Regions from separate parts of the Homo sapiens genome. Here region 2 is linked to region 1. The links come from fine-mapping of genetic effects on gene expression. Tissue or cell type: tibial nerve. Region 1 holds a variant in brackets; the other region holds the start of a gene. All regions are shown on one strand. Distances are from middle to middle.

Evidence for each region. PIP is the estimated chance that this variant, and not a neighbour inherited with it, causes the effect. A credible set is the group of variants that fine-mapping cannot tell apart.
Region 2: RITA1 starts here. The variant in region 1 is the best candidate, but not a certain one, in a credible set for the expression of RITA1 in tibial nerve (GTEx, PIP 0.63).

The regions. Positions count from the first base shown.
Region 1 is chr12:113,320,800-113,330,945 of GRCh38, reverse strand. It overlaps SLC8B1 (solute carrier family 8 member B1), which reads left to right. Exons shown (of 16, transcript NM_001358345.2): 3 at 9,598-9,750; 4 at 9,838-9,890; 5 at 10,039-10,096. Among named protein-coding and RNA genes, the nearest start is that of SLC8B1, 9.2 kb to the left of the region's middle. RefSeq lists a silencer at 8,255-8,455. The variant C/A (reference allele first, on the strand shown) is at 4,662.
Region 2 is chr12:113,180,295-113,190,440 of GRCh38, reverse strand. RITA1 (RBPJ interacting and tubulin associated 1) reads right to left here and starts at 4,720. Exons shown (of 4, transcript NM_032848.3): 1 at 4,420-4,720; 2 at 4,125-4,256; 3 at 3,393-3,758. The coding sequence starts at 3,694. It overlaps DDX54 (DEAD-box helicase 54), which reads left to right and starts at 4,963. Exons shown (of 20, transcript NM_024072.4): 1 at 4,963-5,163; 2 at 9,383-9,512. The coding sequence starts at 4,990. RefSeq lists enhancers at 3,079-3,728, 3,729-4,379, 4,380-5,029, 5,067-5,146 and a silencer at 4,437-4,576.

The DNA.
Region 1 (10,146 bases):
GTAAGGGGAGAAGAGGAGGTCACAGCAGATCTGGAGTGAAGGAACAAAAGCAGAGGACTGCTCAAGATGACCCCCTGGAGTGCCCTGTAGCTGCCAGGGACTGGAGTTCTCACCATTTCTTCAGCAGGAATCCCAAACTCAAACTGATGGGCTGAGAGCATTCAATGCCCACAGCAACTTTATGAGGCTGCAAAGTGCCTTCAAGTCCACCCTGTGAAACAGGCAACAGGCAATTAAGCCCATTTTACAGATGGGAAAGTGGTTTGTGGTTACTGTGGTTATAAAATTGAGTACCCCCTCTTGGAGCGTGCTCCTTGGGGGCAGGAAAACTGGGAGATCATACCAGATAATTGTGCCAGATAATCTCTCCAAGTTATTGAGCACTTAGATCAGCCTTGTGCCCACAAGTCCTCCCCCAAACCCCGTGAGGTGGGAGTGATTATCTCTGTGCTATAGATGAAGACTCCAAGGTTCAGGGAGGTGAAGGTGGCCAGGAGGAAAGTGGCAGAGCCAGGATGAGAACCCTTGGCTGCTTCATGCTAAATCCATCCCCTTCCCCTCTAGTCCACCGCCTCACAGGACAGATGGGGCAGCTGCCTTTCTGGAAGTCCCCACCATCCAGGGAGCCTGCAGGCTGGGAAAGGCCCCCCCAGCCCCTTACCTTAGGTCCTTTTCAAGTAGTCATTAATGCAACAAATAGTTATTGAGCACCTACTATGTGCCAGGGCCTGTGCCATGTGCTGAGGGGATAGCAGGAAGCAGAGAGCCTGGTCCCTGCCCCCCTGGAGCTTATACTCTAGTGGGGTCATGGATGAGAAGCAAGTTGACAAATCATTCCACAGGGTGAGGGGGAGGGGGGTGCTGCTTTGCTTAGGCTATCATGGAAGGCCTCTCTGAGGACATGACATTTAGACTGAGACCTGAATGGCTTATGAAGATCCAGGGGAAGTGAGGGAACAGTAGATGCAAAGGCCCTGGGGCAGGAGCAGAATGACAGATTTTGCAAAGTGGCTGGAACAGTGAGCAAGGGAGAAGGAAGGGAGACCAGGCAGGAGAGAACAGGGGCCCTGGGGACCACTGTAGACTTGGCTGTCAGTGGGAGGAAGGTGGGAGCCATGGGAGGCTTTAGAGCACAAGAGGATGTGATCTGATGTAAGTTTTTATAAGAATTCCAAGGTATTGAGTTGGTTACCCTTTCCTGTCCAGCCTGACCTCTGTGTGCACCTCTTTGGGTTTCCTGGGACTGAGTTAGTGACATAGGAAAGAGGGTGGGAAGGACTGGAAGGAAGTGAAGTCACTCCTTCCCTCCCCCAGACGCAGAGCAATCCCACCTTACTCTGTCTCTCTTGAGCAGAGAGCTGGGGAGGGGTCCTGAGGGACCTGGGGGAGGGCTGTGCAGCTCGGGGAGGGCAGAGCGAGACAGACTGCACAGTAATGTGATTTTGGAGGCCAGATTTGGGGGACCCACCTTGCTGACTCACTCTGCCATCAGGGAGATGGGGTGACTCCCTGCATCCTCCCTAGCTGACCCCGAGGACAGGGAGGAGGGAGGGCAGGAAGATAGTGAGAGGACAGGAAATGGAGGCTGCCCCTGCCCAGTTGGGCAGTTTCCTCAGGAGCTTCAGCGAGTAACTTTCAGGCGGAGCTGAGTTTGGAGCCACTTCTCAGTGGTGGGCTGTGTGCTCCTGGGCAAGCCACTTTGCCTCTCTGTGCCTCAGTTTTCTCATCTGTGAAGTGGAAACAATTGTGCCAACCTCCTGGGTCTCTGATGAAGACTGAATGGGTGAGATGATGCCCAGCACGGTGTGCAGCACAACTGTTAGGAGGGCCTACTCTGCCAGGCACTGTGCGAGACTTTAGTGGGAGGGGCAGATATTAAGCAAGTCTATGATCCTGCCTGGGTGCGGTGGCTCACACCTGTAATCCCAGCACTTTGGGAGGCCGAGGCAGGTGGATCACTTCAGGCCAGGATTTCGAGACCAGCCTGGCCAACATAGCAAAACCCCATCTCTACTAAAATACAAAAATTACCTGGGCATGGTGGTGGACGTCTGCAATCCCAGCTACTCGGGAGGCTGAGGTAGGAGAATCTCTTGAACCCATGAGATGGAGGTTGCAGTGAGCTGAGATCATACCACTGCCCTCCTGCCTGGGCGATGGAGTAAGACTCCATCTCAAAAAAGGAAAAAAAAAAAAAAAAGTAACTGGGAGGGCCAGCTAGGCTGGGAGTAGTCAGGGAGGGCTTCCTGCAAGAAGTGTCCTGGGAACCAAGAATTGGGTGGTGAATGTGGATTAAATAGAGGAAAAATAATCGTGGCACCAGGCAGAAGGAACAGCATGTACAAAAGCTGGACCAATGCCAGGAGGGTCTGGGCATTCCAGGACCTGACAGCTGACCAGACGAGCTTTACTGGAGACTGACAAGGGCAGAACACAGGGACCAAAAACAGGCAAAGGAGAGCTCTTCAGCAGCTGGAGGAGGGAGCACATTAGAAAGAGCCCCTCTGGTAAGATTGGGGGTAGGAGGCCAGATGAGAACCTCTGCAGTTGTTCTCCGTGCTGGTGGAGATGGAAGGAAGGGATGAATTCAAGTATTGTTTAAGAGAGAAAAATTTCTGGCCAGGCTTGGTGGCCCACCTGTGTAATCCCAGCACGTTGGAAGGCCGAGGCGGGAGGATCACTTGAGCCCAGGAGTTTGAGACTAGCCTGGCCAACAAGGCGAGACCCCTTCTCAACAAAAAATTTAAAAATTAGCCTCGTGTGATGCGCACCTGTGGTGCCAGCTACTCAGGAGGCTGAGGTAGGAGACTGCTTGAGCCTGAGTGGTTGAGGCTGGAGTGAGCTGTGATCACGCCACTGCACTCCAGCCTGGGTGACATAGACAGAACCTGTCTCTAAATAAATAAATAAATAAATAAATAATTAAAACTTAGATGATGATAATGCAACCTTTTTTTTTTTTTTTTGGAGACGTAGTTTCGCTCTTGTTGCCTAGGCTGGAGTGCAATGGTGCAATCTCAGCTCACTGCAACCTCTGCTTCCTGGGTTCAAGCGATTCTCCTGCCTTGGCTTCCCAAGTAGCTGCGATTACAGACATCTGCCACCATGCCCGGCTTTTTGTATTTTTAGTAGAGATGGTTTCACCATGTTGGTCAGGCTGGGCTCGAACTCCTGACCTCAGGTGATCCACCTGCCTTGGCCTCCCAAAGTGCTGGGATTACAGGTGTGACCCACCGCGCCCAGCCTATTTTTTTTTTTTTTTTTGAGACAGAGTCTCACTCTGTTGCCCAGCCTAGAGTGCAATGGTGTGATCTTGGCTCACTGCAACCTCCGCCTCCCGGGTTCAAGTTATTCTGCCTCAGCCTCCTGAGTAGCTGGGAACACAGGCACACGCCACCGTGCCTGGCTAATTTTTATATTTTTAGTGGAGATGGAGTTTCACCATGTTGGCCAGGCTGGTCTCAAACTCATGGGCTCAGGCACTGGGATTACAGATGTGAGCCACAATGCCTGGCCTCCATGTCCTTATCCCATTCCTGTCTAGGCTTGTGGGTGTTATTGCCCCCATTGTTCAGAGGAGAACACTGAGGTTAATTTACTTGCCCAAAATCACTCACCTAGAAGGACGCAAATTAGAATTTCAACCAGGCAGTTTCATGAGAGAGGAGGGCTCAGTAGAGGGAGCTGTACTGCCTCCCAATATGATTATTATTGTTCCTCCCAGAGGAGGAAATGGCAGCCCGCCTGCTTCCCTGGCCCCCATCTAGTGTCCTTCCTCCTTGTGCTGGGTGGGACCCTCTTTGTCAGAAACCCCTTGGGTGACTTTATCTCCCTGGGAAATTCCTGGGCCCCAGCAAAGCCACAGGCCCAGGCTTAGGGCAAGACTGAAACCCTCCCCCTCCCAGTATGGAAGGAGCCCAGCCTGACTGTTGCTTTTGGGTGGGAGCTGGGGATGGGATAAGGGAAGCTCAGGACAGAAACTTGAGACTTGCATCTGCATGTTTTGGTGGGAATAGTTGATGGAGATTCCCAAGCCTGGGTTGGGATGTGCACACCATCACTCCAGCCTGGGGCACAGACTTTCTGTAAAGAGCCAGATAGTAGGGCCGGGTTGTGGGCTCACATTTGTAGCTCCAGCCACTTGGGAGGTTGAAGTCGGGGGAATTCCTTAAGCCTAAGAGTTTGAGGCTGCAGTGAGCTATAATCATGCTTCTGCACTCCAGCCTGGGCAACAGTGAGACCTTGTCTCAAAAAAAAAAAAAGAGAGAGAAAGAAAAGAGGCCAGTCACAGTGCTCACACCTGTAATCCCAGCACTTTGGGAGGCGGAGGCTGGTGGATCACTTGAGGCCAGGAGTTTGAGACTAGCCTGGCCAACATGGTGAAACCCCATCTCTACTAAAAATAAAAAAATCAGCCAGGCGTGGTGGCACATATCTGTGATCCCAGCTCCTCCAGAGGCTGAGGCAGGATAATAATTTGAACCCAGGAGGCAAAGGTTGCAGTGAGCTGAGATCTCACCACTGTACTTCAGCCTGGGCAACAGAGTAAGACTCCGTCTCAAAATAAATAAGTAAATAAAAAAGAAAAAAGAAAAGAAAGAAAGAATAGAATAAGAGCTAGACAGTAAATATTTTCAGCTTTGTGGGCTACATGGTTTCTA[C/A]AACTACTCACTGCTCTCACAGTGCCTGAGTAGCCACAGATTGTACATCAACGAATGGGTGTGGCTGTGCCCCAGTAAATATTTATGGAAATGGAAACTTGAGTTTTATATAATTTTACATGTCATGGAAAATTCTTCTTTTGATTTATGTCTCCCAACCATTTAAAAATGTAAGAATCATTCTTGGCTTGCAGGCTGTGCATAACCAGATGGTGGGCTGGATGTGGTCCAGGGGCCGAAGTTTGCTGACCCTTGGCTTACCCATATGTTAAAGGGGAATCATTCCATTTGCCTCGCAGGAGTGTTGGAAAGGCTACACAAAATCACTTAGTCATTCAAGCAGCCATTAACACAAATGTATTAAGCCCCTACTACAGGCCAGGCTCAGGGCAAATACAAGAATGCAGACAAAAAAAATTCAGGGCTGGGCGCGGTGGCTCACGCCTGTAATCCCAGCACTTTGGGAGGCCGAGGCGGGTGGATCACAAGGTCAGGAGATCGAGATCATCCTGGCTAACACGGTGAAACCCATCTCTACTAAAAATACAAAAAATTAGCTGGGCGTGGTGGCGAGCGCCTGTAGTCCCAGCTACTCGGGAGGCTGAGGCAGGAGAATGGTGTGAACCTGGGAGGCGGAACTTGCCGTGAGCCGAGATAGCGCCACTGCAGTCTGGCCTGGGCGAAAGAGCGAGACTCCGTCTCAAAAAAAAAAAAAAAAATTAAGGCCAGGTTTGGTGGTTCACGCCTATAATCCCAGCACAATGGGAGGCTGAGGTGGGAGGATGGCTTGAGGCCAGGAGTTGAAGACCAGCCTAGGCAACATAGCAAGACCTCCATCTCTACAAAAAATAATTTTTAAAAAAATTAACTGGGTGTGGTGGTGCATGCCTGTAGTCCCAGCTACTTGGGAGGCAAAGGCAGGAGGATCACATGCGCCCAGGAGTTCGAGGCTGAAGTGAGCCATGATTGCCCCACTGCACTCCAGCCTGAGTGACAAAGCACCTGGTCTCTAAAATAATAAAATTCAGTAAACAAGGAAATGAACAAAATAAAGATTGTGATAACTGCTGTGAATGCAGAAAACTGGGTATTAATAGTGGAGATAGGGGTAATAACTACTTTACATGGAAAGTCTCTGAGGAGGGCAAATTTGAACACCTGTAATCTCATTTGATTCTTTTATCAATGGGGTTGGTATAATTAGTCCCATTTTACAAATGAGACTGAAGCTCAAAGAGAGGAAGGGAATTGCTACAGATACAGCTCTTAGATGGTAGAGCTGGTTGGGCATGGAGGCTCACACCTGTAATCCCAGTACTTTGGGAGGCTGAAGTAGGTGGATCACTTGAGGTCAGGAGTTCAAGACCAGCCTGGCCAACACAGTGAAACCTCATCTTTACCAAAAATACAAAAATTAGCCAGGTGTGGTGTTGTGTGCATGTAGTTCCAGCTACTCAGGTGGCTGAGGCAGGAGAATCACTTGAACCCAGGAGGTGGAGGTTGCAGTGAGCCAAGATTGCTCTACTGCACTCCAGCCTAGGCGACAGAGTGAGACTCTGTCTCAAAGGAAAAAAAAGGGGCTGGGCGCAGTGGCTCACACCTGTAATCCTAGCACTCTGGGAGGCCAAGGCAGGTAGATCACTTGAGGTCAGAAGTTTGAGACCAGCCTGGCCAACGTGGTGAAACCCCATTTCTACTAAAAATACAAAACTTAGCCGGGCGTGTCGGTGGGCACCTGTAGTCCCAGCTACTCGGGAGGCTGAGGCAGGAGAATCAGTTGAACCCGAGAGGTGGAGGTTTCAGTGAGCCGAGATTGTGCTATTGTACTCCAGCCTGGGTGACAGAGGGAGACTCTGTCTCCAAAAAAAAAAAAAAAAAAAAAGGTAGAGCTGAGTGGCTGAGTGGGTATTATGCTCAGGTTGTCCTGATCTCAAAAAAAGAAAAGTTTTTTTTTTTGTTTGTTTGTTTTTTTTTGAGACAGGCTTGCTCTGTCACCCAGGCTGGAGAGCAGTGGTGCCATCATAGCTCACTGCAGCCTCAACCTCCCAGACTCAAGCAATCCTCTCACCTCAGCCTCTGAAGTAGCTGGAACCACAGGCGTGTGCCACCATGCCTGGCTCATTTTTAAATTTTTTTGTAGCAATGGGGTCTTACTATGTTACCCAAGTTGGTCTCAAACTCCTGGGCTTAAGCGATCCTCCTGCCTCAGCCTCCCAAAGTGTTGGGATTACAGGTGTGAGCCAGTTTACCTGGCCACAGATTTCATCTTCCCAGCTGGCATGTGCTTTCTGAGGACAGGACACTGTAGAAAGATTGAGGGGTTGGGGCAGGGCTGGGGGTTTCAGTCTCTGCTCAGGGGATACTGTATGGGTGGGTAGAGCTCTTAGCAAAAATTGGTGAGAAGGCCAGAGGCTCAGAGATAAGAAATCTCACTTCCAGTCTGGTGTTAGTGGGAGTTCAGAGAGGGCTTGTGGAGGAGGTGGAACTGTGGTTTGACAAAGCTTTTAAAAAATTATAATGAAATACACATAACCTAAAATTTACTGTCTTAGCTTTTTTTGTTGTTGTTTTTTTTTGAGATGGAGTCTCACTTTGTCACCCAGGCTGGAGTGCAGTGGTATGATCTTGGCTCACTGCAACCTCTGCCTCCTGGGTTCAAGCGATTCTCCTGCTTCAGCCTCCTGAGTAGCTGGGACTACAGGTGGATGTCACCACGCCTGGCTCATTTTTGTATTTTTAGTAGAGACGGGGTTTCCCCATGTTGACCAGGCTGGTCATGAACTCCTGACCTCAAGTGATCCGCCTACCTCGGCCTCCCAACGTGCTGGGATTACAGGCATGAGCCACCACACCTGGCCAGACTTGCAGTTTAACAATGACATTCCTATCACATTGATCTGAATAAGGCTGCTCATAGCCAATGTGGGTGCAGGCTTATGAGAATTGCTTATTTCCCATTCCTGGTGGGAGTGTATGTAGGTAGAGCTTGGCCAGGGCATTTTGGCAAAATCTAGCAATGTTGAAGATCCCTTGTCAGGGCCTTGAGCATTTCTTTTGGACTGTACTATTTTGGTGGGCTTTTGTTGACTTCCAGTTGCCAGTTTATTGTTCTAGAACCACTTATAAGCATAGTAGGCTAGAGGTGCTGGGGAACTAAAACCTCCATCTAGCAGTCCTCACCCAATGGCTGATGAGAGTTGGTGTATAAATATCCCAGCTCCCTTGCCTCCTGATTAAGCTCATGGTGGTGGTAACTGGCTCAACCCAGCCTTCGTTGGCAGCTATCCCTTCTCTGTACCACTTCTTTTCTCCTATTTCTTTTATTTTTTTCTTTTGAGACAGGGTCTCACTCTGTCACCCAGGCTGGACTGCAGTGGTACAATCATAGCTCTCTGCAACCTTGAACTTCCAGGCTCAGGTGCTCCTCCCACCTCCTCCTCCTGAGTAGTTGGGACTACAGGCGTATGCCACCAAGCCCGGCTAGTTTTTTTTGTATTTTTTGTAGAGATGGAGTTTTGTCATGTTGCCCAGGCTGGTCTCGAACTCCTGAGGTCAAGTGATCCTGCAGCCTTGGCCTCCCAAAATGCTACAGTTACAGGCGTGAGCCACCACACCCGGGCCCACTTCCCTTTCTCTATGTTTGTGTTCCTCAGGTCTCCCAAACATACTATGTCCATCTCAATCTTTGTCTCTGAGTCAGCTTCTGGAGGAACCCAGACCAGGATACCCTCTGATTCAGCACTTTCTCTTCTCAAATCTTCTCTGACAACATTTTTCTCATATGTGCTCAGAGAGTCATGTGTGAGGAAGCTCATTGGCTATATTGAAAAACTAGGCATACCCAAATGCCCAGTAGGGAAATGTTTACCTCAGTGATGTATCACCCATAGTATGAAATACTCTGCTGCAGTGAAAGACTCTGTGGGGAGGCAGGGGAGAACAGTGGGCCCTAGAGCCTAAAACTGCCTGGGTTCCAACCTTGACCCTCCCACTGAGTGCACACGGACATTGTCTCAGTCTCCTTAACTGTTTAATGGGCATGATAATAGTTCCTTCCTCGCAGACTGTTGTGCAGAGTAATTGAGATACATATTTTTTTTTTTTGAGACAAGATCTCATTCTATTCCCCAAGCTAAATGCAGTATTGCAGCCTCAACCTCCTGGGCTCAGGTGATCCTCCCACCTCAGTCTCCTGAGTAGCTGGGACTACAAGTGCACATCACCATGCCTACCTAATTTTTTATTTTATTTTTTTGCAGAGATGGGGTCTTGCTATGTTGTCCAGGCTGGTCTTGAAATCCTGGGTTCAAGCAATCCTCCCACCTCAACCTCCCAAAGTGCTGGGATTATAGGCATGAGCCACTGCCCCCAGCCATCATAGAATTATTGTACAGATTAATTGAGATACATTTTAAGCTCTTAGCACTATGCTTTGCATATAGAAATCACTATAGTATGTTTCAAATTCTGTATATTAAGGTATATTAATATATATATATATATAATGGTAAAAGCAAATTATAGAAACAAGAGATTTGGGATGGATCCATTTCTGTTAAACAAAACAAAGTGTGTAATAGGATATATATACAAATATAATTGATCTGAGAAATGTCTGTAAGGATGTGCTTCAAACTAATTATGGTGGGACCACTGGAGAGGGGGATTTACGGAGGGCAGGGATAAGAAAGCGGAATTTAGAAATCTTATGTATTGGTTTTTTTAAAAAACAAATATGTATTCATGAATTACTTATGTCAATTTCAAGCAGACGTTTATTTTTAAAATTAAAAGTGCATCCATAGTTGGCACCCAGAGGGTATGGTGGCCTTGGAGACCAGGCTGAAGGGACATTATGTTTAGCTGCTTAGATGGGCCTAGTCTAGTTCTCAGGGAAGTCTCTGCCGCTGATGTCCCCCTCCCTGTCTTCCTGCAGTGCCGCAAGGTGTGTGGCCTGAATGTCTCTGACCGCTGTGACTTCATCCGGACCAACCCTGACTGCCACAGTGATGGGGGGTACCTGGACTACCTGGAAGGCATCTTCTGCCACTTCCCTCCCAGCCTCCTCCCTCTGGCTGTCACTCTCTACGTGAGGCCCTGCCCTGGGGGGCTGGTGAGAGGGGCTGGTGTCTCCAGCTGGACTTGACTCTCCCTTCCTCGCCCGCTCCCCACCCAGGTTTCCTGGCTGCTCTACCTGTTTCTGATTCTGGGAGTCACCGCAGCCAAGTTGTGAGTTTGGCTCTGGGCTCCGGTCTGGCTTATCAATGGGAGGAGGGGTCCCAGGAGGCTGACATTCGGTCACCCTCAGTTTGGGGGAAGGATAGGGGTCCGGGGCCGGTTACTACGGAAATGCTTCCCGTCCGCTTTTTCTCCGTAGTTTCTGCCCCAACTTGTCGGCCATTTCTACCACACTGAAGCTCTCCCACAACGTGGCAGTATCCTTTTGTCCAGTGTCCTGCACCCTGGAGGGAGGGCAGTTGTGGGG
Region 2 (10,146 bases), 140 kb after region 1:
GTTCCTGAACTCAAGCAGCCCCCTGCCTTAACCTCTCAAAGTGTTAGGATTGCAGGAGTAAGCCACCGTGCCCATTTTCTTTTCTTTCTTTCTTTTTCTTTTTTTTTCTGAGACAGAGTCTCGCTCTGTCACCCAGGCTGGAGTGCAGTGGTGCAATCTCAGCTCACTGCAACCTCCGCCTCCTGGGTTCAAGCGATTCTCCTGCCTCAGCCTCCTGAGTAGGCGGGATTACAGGCATGTGCTACCATGCCCAGCTAATTTTTGTATTTTTAGTAGAGACGGGGGGGGTTTCACCATGTTGGCCAGGCTGGTCTTCAATTCCTGACCTCATGATCTACCCACCTCGGCCTCCCAAAGTGCTGGGATTACAGGCAAGAGTCACTGCGCCCGGCCTTTTTTTTTTTTTTTTTTAAGAGACAGGGTCTCACTCTGTCACCCAGGCTGGAGTGCAGTGACGCTCGCTGCAGCTGCGAACTCCTGAGCTCAAGTAATCCTCCCACTTCAGCCTCCAGAGTAGCTGGGACTACAGGTATGCACCACTATGCCCTGCTAATATTTTTATTTTTTGTAGAGACAGGGATCTCACTATGTTGCCCAGGCTGGTCTCAAACTCTGGAGCTCAAGCGATCCTCCCACCTCAGCCTCCCAAAGTGCTGGGACTACAGGCCTGAGTCAGCCTGTCTGGCCTTTTTTTTTTTTTTTTTTTTTATTCAACAGATATTCACGGCATACCTGCAAGATTCCACGCCCATAGTTTTTTTGGCCAGGACTGAAAGTGCTTCTATCCCCAAACTGCAAGTCTTTGAAAGGGCAAGCTTTTGCCACTTGGTTTAGCTGCTCAAACCACATTGGCTAATGCCTGTATATGTCTGGTGCCAAGGTTTTTGCTCAATAACTTCTCTACCTCTTATGCAACCCCTCACTTGACACCCTCTACCTGTTGGCATCCAGAAGAAAATTCCACCCTCCAGGTGAGCAAGGAGTTGTCACCTCCCTTTTCATGGACACCATACTTCCTAATGCAGCCTATCTTTACCTCAGTGTTTTCAGCCATGTTGTAGGTATCAGTGTTGCTAATCTCCACCTGACCCTGCCTTGTCTACAGAACTGGCAATAACTGATTCTTGTTTTTATAATAGGTATCATTCCCATTCTCATTTCATTTCTCTCATCTGAAATATGTCCCTGTGGTTCAGAATGAACCCTAACTTTAGCTGGCCAGTTCTTATGGACTGAATTGTGCCCACCCAAATTCATATGTTGAAGCCCTAACCCCAAATGTCTCTACACTTGGCCTTAATTATTTAGATTAATTAAAGGTAATTAAGGCTGGCCAGACATGGTGGCTCACATCTGTAATTCCAGCACTTTGGAAAGCAGAGGCGGGAGAACGACTTGAGCTCAGGAGTTTGAGACCAGCCTGGCCAACACAGTGAAACCCCGTCTCTACTAAAAATACAAAAATTAGCCAGGCATGGTGGCGTGCACCTGTAATGCCAGCTACTCGGGAGGCTGAGGCAGGAGAATTCCTTGAACCCGGAGGTGGAGGCTGCAGTGATCCGAGATGGTGCCACTGCACTCCAGCCTGGGCGACAGAGCCAGACTCCATCTCAAAAAAAAAAAAAAAAAAAAAAAAAAAAAAAAAAAAAAAAAGGTAACTAAGGCTAAATAACATTATAAGGGTAGGGGATCCTAATCCAATAGAACTGGTGTCCTTATGAGAGGAAGAGACATCAGGGGTGTGTGTGTATACAGAAAAGGCCCTTGCATGTAATTGAAGGATTAAAAAAAAATGAGAAAAGGCCCTATGATGACACTGTGAGAACGTGGCCAACTGCAAGCCAAGGAGAGAGGCCTCAGGAGAAACCAAACCTGCCAACACCTTGATCTTGGGCTTCCAGCCTCCAGACTGTGACAAAATAAATTTGTGTTGTGGCCAGGCGCGGTGGCTCATGCCTGTAATCCCAGCACTTCGGGAGGCCAAGGCAGGTGGATCACCTGGTCGGGAGTTCAAGATCAGCCTGACCAACATGGAGAAACCCCGTCTCTACTAAAAATACAAAATTAGCCAGGCATGGTGGCGTAATCCCAGCTACCAGGGAGGGTGAGGCAGGAGAATCGCTTGAACCTGGGAGGCAGAGGTTCAGGTTAGCTGAGATGGCTCCACTGCACTCCAGCCTGGGCAACAAGAGCAAAACTCCGTCTCAAAAAAAAAAAAAAAAAATTAAGTCAGGCATGGTGGCATGTGCCTGTAGTCCCAGCTACTCAGGAGACTGAGGCAGGAGAGTCGCTTGAACCCGGGAGGTGGAGGTTGTGGTGAGCCAAGATCGTGCCACTGCACTCCAGCCTGGGCAACAGAGCGAGACTCCATCTCAAAAAAAAAAAAAATTGTGTTGTTTAAGCCACCCAGTCTGTGGTATTTTGTCATGGTGGCCCTAGCCAACTACTGTGCTAATCTTCTGTGTCTTTGTCCAAACCACTGATAACAATAAACAGGACAGAGCCCTGTGGCTCACCACTAGACACCTCCCTCCAGGCTGATATTAATCTGAAACAGTCCAAATAATCTAATTCTAATCTAATTAATTAACAACAATAACAATTTGCATTAGTTCCTATTTTTCTAACTTGTTCATAAAAATGCAGCAAGAACCATTTTCAATTTTTTTTTTTTTTTTTTTTTGGAGACAGGGTCTCACTCTGTCACTCAGGCTGGAGTGCAGAGGCGTGATCTCAGCTCATTGCAATCTCTGCCTCCTAGGCTCAAGTGATCCTCCCACCTCAGCCTCCCGGGAGCTGGGAGTACAGGCGCACACCACCACACTTGGCTAATTTTTGCATTTTTTATAGAGACACAGTTTCACCACGCTGCCCAGGCTGGTCTCAAACTCCTGAGCTCAAGTGATCCCACCTCAACCTCCAAACGTTCTGGGATTACAGGCATGAGCTACCCCATGTGGCCAAAACCCATTTTCAAAATGACTTCAGAAACACCACATCTATGTCATTTCAAGGATCGAACACATTAATATTAATAAGCTTATGCAAATTTCTCTGTGATCTTATGCCTCAGCTGACTCCTCTGGGCCTCAGATGCCCAGTTTGTGACATTTGGGGATAGGGAGTTCACCATCACAACCATCAACACTACCATTTATTGACAGCTTTCTAAGTATTAGGTTACTGTGCGAAGCACTGCAGACCCCTCTCTCATTTAATCCATCAACAATCCCCCTAGGTAGGAATAATTGGTCCTATTTTCCACATGAGTAAACTGGCTCAGAGAGGTCAAGATGCTTGCCCAAGGTCACAGAGCAGGTGAACACCAGAGCTGTAACTGGAATCCAGGTGGCTGCACTGAGTACAGGATTTGCATCTCCCTACCCCATTACCTGTATTTGTTCTTCTTCCTTGGTGTGAGGGTGGGGGTGCTGCCCCTTGAGGGGGTGGTCTCACAGCTCCCCTTTGCCCCCAAGGCCTTCGATGCCTCCTTGCCCACGCCTCTGGTTCTGTTAGCCTTCTCCACCCAGGGCGGATCGAAGTCCGGTGGGGTAGGCCGGGTGCCTGCTGGGCTGCCAAACAGAGTCTCATCCACATATGACGTCCTGGCCTTGACCCGGTAGCCACCTCGGCAGCGGTGCTGAAGGCCGAGGGTCTGCATCCCACTGACGGCCAGCTCCACGGGGGTCTTCATGCTGCCTGTGGTCCCTGGTGACAGCAGGTGTGCTCTGCCGGCCAGGCCCTGCTTCCGAGGCTCCCTGTGAGAGGAGGTCAGAGTAGCACCCCTGAGCCACAGAAGTGCTAATGGAGGAAGACCGGTAGTGTCTGAAGTTCTCATCCCAAGGGTTTAGTTCTCTCTCAACCAGTCTCTCAAAGGGGAGCTGTCAACTTCAGGGGGCATTTTGGAAATTTCTTTGGCTTTTTTTTAGTTGTCATAATGGTGGTGAAAGGGGGGCTACTGGCAATTATTTACAGAATGACTCTGGCGGTGAAGGAGAGATGACACCTGTGTCTATTTAGGCACCAACCAGAAAACACACTATGGTGGTAGGGGAGACAGGCACTTTCCTATGTGTACTGATGGGGGTGGGGGCAATGACAGCCAGCGTGGATCCCATGCCTACCTCCTGCAAAGAGCTTTACAAGCATTGTTTCATTTAATCCTCTCAACAGCACTGTGAAGTAGCTTCGAATTTGTCCATTTTACGGATCACAAAACTGAGGTGAAGTCACATGTGTAGGTCACACCTATAAAGCTAAAACGGTGGAAGTGAAATCTGAGTCCAGAGCTTGTGTACTTGGCTACACTGCTATCGGGAGATCACCGCCGCCCCCACCGCCCCACATTCTGCGACTCCCAAATCAATGACCCGATTAAAAAGTGCCCGAGGTCCCTGCATTTTTGGGTTGTTCTCCTACCTGAGCATCTTGGCTCGTAGGCATCGGGATCCTCAGGGACCCGTCCCCGCACCTTCTTCCCACCAGGTCTGGACCCGTCGGTGAGGGCGCGGGGGCGCGCGGTGCATCCGGGATCCCCGTCAATCTGCAGCCCGGAATGCCTGGGGCCCCGGACCCCCGGCAGCCTAGGCCGTCCCGGGGCACCGCGCGCGGACGGACTCACCCGAGGAGCCGGCACAGGCTACGTGTGAACGGCCCGCGAATCCAGAAACCCAGAACCCAGCACTTTGCACCCAGCAACCAGGGAGCAGCCAGCAGCACTGCGGACGCGGCCCGGACCATTCGCGCCCGCGGATGGGGGGAGTCCGCCCAGGGGCGGGCGCCACGCTCCTGAGGCCCAGGAGGTCCCTAAACATGGAGAGGGTCCTCTGGTGCCACTCACTCAGGTGCGTGTGTACTAGGCCGCCGAGGGCCGCAGGCACTGGCGAAAGCTCAGCGGAGGTCACGTGGTCACCGCACCTCCCCCCCCCCCACGCAGTTGGTGCGCTCCTCAGGCCACGCCCCCTTCTGCGTTCCCAGCGCGCGGCCCGAATGGCGGCCGACAAGGGCCCGGCGGCTGGACCTCGGTCGCGAGCTGCCATGGCCCAGTGGAGGAAGAAGAAAGGGCTCCGGAAGCGCCGAGGCGCGGCCTCCCAGGCCCGCGGCAGCGACTCGGAGGACGGCGAGTTTGAGATCCAGGCGGAAGATGACGCCCGGGCCCGGAAGGTAGGCGCGTGGGGCTGGGACGCATGTTCGGGCCCGAGACCCGGCTCCGGGCAGCGCCTCGAGGCCTCAGTTTCCCCAGCTGGGGATTGGGCTCCGCAGAGTGTGGGGAGGGAGGCTGCCGACCCGAGGACCGGTCTTGGGACCGCCGGCCTGAGCACGTGTCTCGGGGCTTGTCAGGCTCAGGGTTCCGCGGCCAGAGCCTTGGGATCCCGGGGCTGGAGCCTGCGGGCCTTCCTGCCGGGTTTTGGTCGCGCGTCTCTCATTGGCTGCCTCCTGCTCGTGGGGCGGATCCTGGCTCCCTTTCGCCCAATGAAAAGTGCGGGTGCAGAAGATCTGACTTTGAGAGTTTGGAGCGTTCTTGGGAGGTTGAATTAAGGGGAGGCCAGACTGCGTGGCTTGAGACAGTGTGACGCCTCCAAACCTCTGGGAAACGAATTAAAACAATTTTTTTTGAGACAGAGTCTTGCTCTGTTGCTCATGCCGGAGTGCAGTTGTGTAGCCACGCCTTGCTACAGCCTCCGCCTCCTGGGCTCAAGCGATCCTCCCACGTCAGCCTCTCCGGTAGCTGAGACCACAGACATGCGCCACCACGCCCGGATAATTTTTAAATTTTTTGTAGAGACGGGGGTCTCCCTATGTTGCCCAGGATGGTCTCGAACTTCTGGCCTCAAGCAGTCCTCCCACTTCTGCTTCCCAAAGTGTTGGGATTAACAGGCGTGAGCCCGGCCAGTTTGTGTTTGTTGACCGTTTACTATGTGCCAGGCTCCATGCTAAGAGCTGTACGAGCCTTATTATTTAATCCTCACACCAACGTTGTGCTAACACCACCAGCAACTGTCATCTTCATTTTTCTACAGGAGGAAACTGAGGCCTAGAGGGTTAAGAAATAGTCAAAGGCCTGGTGTAGTGGCTACACGCCTGTAAACCCAGCACTTAGGGAGGCTGAGGTGGGAGGATTGCTTGAGGTCAGGAGTTCAAGATCAGCCTGGGCAACATAGGCAGACCCCGTCTCTACAAAAAATTAAAAAATTAGGATGGCCGCGGTGGCTCACGCCTGTAATCCCAGCACTTTAGGAGGCTGAGGCAGGCGGATCACCTGAGGTCGGGAGTTCAAGACCAGCCTGGCCAACATGGTGAAACCCTGTCTCTACTAAAAATACAAAAATAGCCAGGTGTGGTGGCATGTGCCTGTAATCCCAGCTACTCGGGAGGCTGAGGCAGGAGAATCGCTTGAAACTGGGAGTCAGAGGTTGCAGTGAGCCGATATTGCACCACTGCACTCCAGCCTGGGTGACAGAGCAAGACTCTGTCTCAAAAAATAAAAATTAGCCTGGCTTGGTGGCGCCCACCTGTGGTCCCACCTCCTGGAGAGGCAATGTGGGAGGATCACTTAAACCTGGGCGGCGGAGAGTACAGTGAGCTGTGGCTACACAACTGCACTCCATCATAAGCAACAGAGCAAGACTCTGTCTCCAAAAAAAGAAAAAAAAAAAAAAGGGAGATCCCATCTTTACAAAAAAAGAGAGAAAGCAGCTTGACCAAGACCTCACAGCTTGTGAGTACAAGAGCCAGGAGATTCAAACTTGAGACTGTCTGATTCCAAGGCCTGTGCCGTTTCCATTACTGAATGTCATGTGTATGCACATGAAGGGATGGGTGTGAGCACCAATGGGGCAGAAGGGCTGCGCCCATTATTTCCCACAGTCCTGTTCCCAGCGGGTGCCTGGCACCAGGTAGGCTCAGGGCAAGATGAGTAAGTGGACATTTATATGAAGAGAAAGGATCACACTCCAAGGCAGGAACTAGAAGAGACCTCATCCCACTGTCCCTCTCTCATCTTCCAGCCTAGCCAGTACCTGGCACACAGTAGGTGCTCAACAAATGTAGAGAAACTACTAAAGGTAATGAACAGCACAGGCGGGCAGAGGTGGTTATTACCAAAGAAGAGGAGTCTAAGTGTAGTTCAGACCAAGGGCTTCTCACGGCACTGCCCTGTGTTCAAATTTGGCCCAACCTTGCACTGGCTGTGGGACATTGGAGAGGTTGCTTAACCTCTCTGTGCCCGTTTCCACATCCGTAGAAGGCAAGTAAATGATTATATATGTTTCAAAGGTTGTTGGCCCGGTGCCGTGGCTCATGCCCGTAATCCCAGCACTTTGGGAGTCCGAGGAGTGAGGATCACTTGATGCCAGGAGTTCGAGACCAGCCTGGGCAACATGCATGGCGAGACTGCATCTACAAAAAATACAAAAATTAGCCAGGCATGGTGGTGTGTGCCTGTAGTCCCAGCTACTTGGGAGGCTGAGGTGGGAGGATCACCTGAGCTAGGTGAGCCGTGATTGCCCCACTGCACTCCAGCCTGGGAGACTGAGTGAAACTCTGTCTCAAAAAAAAAAAAAAAGTGTTGAAAAGACCAAAGGAGGCTGGGCGTGGTGGCTCATGCCTGTAATCCGAGCACTTTGGGAGGCCAAGGTGAGCGGATCACTTGAGGTCGGGAGTTTGAGACCGGCCTGGCCAACATGGTGAAACCCCATCTCTACTGAAAATACAAAAATTAGCCGGGCTGGTGGCATGTGCCTGTAGTCCCAGCTAGTTGGGAGGCTGAGGCAGGAGAATTGCTTGGACCCAGGAGGTGGAGGCTGCAGTGAGCCAAGATCCTGCCACTGCACTCCAGCCTGGGTGACTGAACGAGACTGTCTCAAAAAAAAAAAAAGAAGAAGACTGAAGGACATGCTGTTCATACATTCAGTAGCTATTGCAGGCGCCTGTGTGTCCCAGGCACCTTGTTTTCATGTACCTAGAGCAGGGGTTGGCAGACCTATCAAGGGCCAGATGGTAAATCTTTTTTTTAGGTTTTGTTGGGCCATATAAGATCACTGTCTTTTTTGTTGGATTTCTTTTTCTTTTCTACAACCCTTTAAAAAGTAAAAACCGTTCTAAACTCACAGACTGTTCAAGACAGGCCATGGCTCTGCCCTAGAGGATTGTAGTTAATCTTAGAGGGTCACAGTGAAAAGAACACAGTCTCTGAAGCCAGGGTTCACATCCCTCACCCACTACCTGCTGGCTGTGTGACCTTGGGCACGTCACTGTATCTCTGTGCCTCAGTTTTCTTCTCTGTAAAATGGACAGAACAATAGTACCCACTTCATCAGATTGTTGTGAGGATTAAGTGGGTTAATTTGTATAATTCTCAGAGCAGCACCTAGCTTATAGTAGATACCTTGTAAGTTTCAGCCACTCTTATGAATTGCTGCTCCGTAAATGCTTTTTTTTTTTTCTTTTTTGGTAAAGATGGGGTTTTACCATGTTGCCCAGGCTAGTCTGGGAACTCCTGGGCTCAAATGATCCACCCACCTCAGCCTCCCAGTGCTGGGATTACAGGCGTGAGCCACCACGCCTGGCCATGAATGCTATTTTTAAGAGAAAGGGGACAGCCCTGTAGTCCAAGAAGGTTCCCCAGAGGAGGTGTCTGGATTGGATTTAGCTGTGCCAGGACAAGTGGGTCCTGGGTGAGCAGAAAGGAGGCCAGGCATGAGACAGACCAGAGATCAGAAAGGAGATTGGTTGGCGGCTGATGGGGCGGGGGTAGGGGGCGGGAGATCTTGGAAAAGTCTAGTACTTCACATATAGTAGGCATTTCGATTGGCTCTTTAATGTATTTAGGGGCTGGGTGTGGTGGTTCATGCCTGTAATCCCAACACTTTGGGAGGCCAAGAAGGGAGGAATACTTGAGGCCAGGAATTCAAGACTAGCCTGGGCAATGCAGTAAGACCTCATCTCTACAAAAAAAAAAAAATAAATACAAAATAAAAAAATTAGCCAGATGTGGTAGTATACGCCTGTAGTCCCAGCTACTCAGAAGTCTAAGGTGGGAGACTCACTTGAGCCTAGGAGTTCAAGGCTGCAGTGAGCCATGCCTGCACTGCTGTACTCCAGCCTGGGTGACAGAGTAAGACCCTGTCTCTTAAAAAAAAAAAAAAAATGTACTTACTTTTGGGATTGAGATTCAAACCGAGACAGTCTATCTGCAGACCCCACTCTAAACTTCTGTCCTGGCCCAGCCAAAGGAGAACTTACTAGCAAAAAAGTGACGTGATCTGGCGGAAGCATCATTGGCTTGAATGGGGGAGAGAGGGCAACAGCACAGGCCCCTTCCCTGCCCCCTGTGGTCCCACTGTGCCTGGAGTGACACCACCTCTCTGTCCTTCCCTCCCAGCTGGGACCTGGAAGACCCCTGCCCACCTTCCCCACCTCGGAATGCACCTCGGATGTGGAGCCGGACACCCGGGAGATGGTGCGTGCCCAGAACAAGAAGAAGAAGAAGTCTGGAGGCTTCCAGTCCATGGGTGGGTGCAACTTGGCATCAGGGACTCTGCGGGAGTGGCAGCTGGAGGTCAACCCCGCCTCTGCACTCCATCACTGATGTCCACTCTGGGCCCAGCACTGTGGTTGGGTAGACCGGGGTAGCAGATGTGGTCCTCCAGTCATTCAGGGCCTTCTAGTGGGGCAGCGGGCCTGACACAGGAGAGGGCAGTTAGAACAGGCCTCAGGAAAGGCAATGCAGATGCAGGAACAGGCAAAGACAGTCGGGGACTTATTGCCTGCAGAGGGACATTTCAGAAGGAGGGAAAGGATGGAATGGGTGGGTGGTGTGGGGACACCTGGCTGGCCAGAAATAAAGCCTGACTCTGTTACTCTTTACAAATCAGTAGCAGCTGGAGCAAGGATTTAAATATCAAGATGAGTGCTGGGTGCGATGACTCATGCCTGTAATCTTAGCGTTTGGGGAGGCAGAGGTAGGATCACTTGAGGCCAGGAGTTCAAGTCCAGCTTGGGCAACAAAGTGAGCTCCCATCCATGCCCTCACCACCAAGAGGGACAAGAGTCCCTCCCCACACCCGGGTGATTCTGAAGTTCATTCCAGACATCCTCATTGTGTCCACACACACTTCCAAGAGGCGCAGGACCTTACCACGCCTA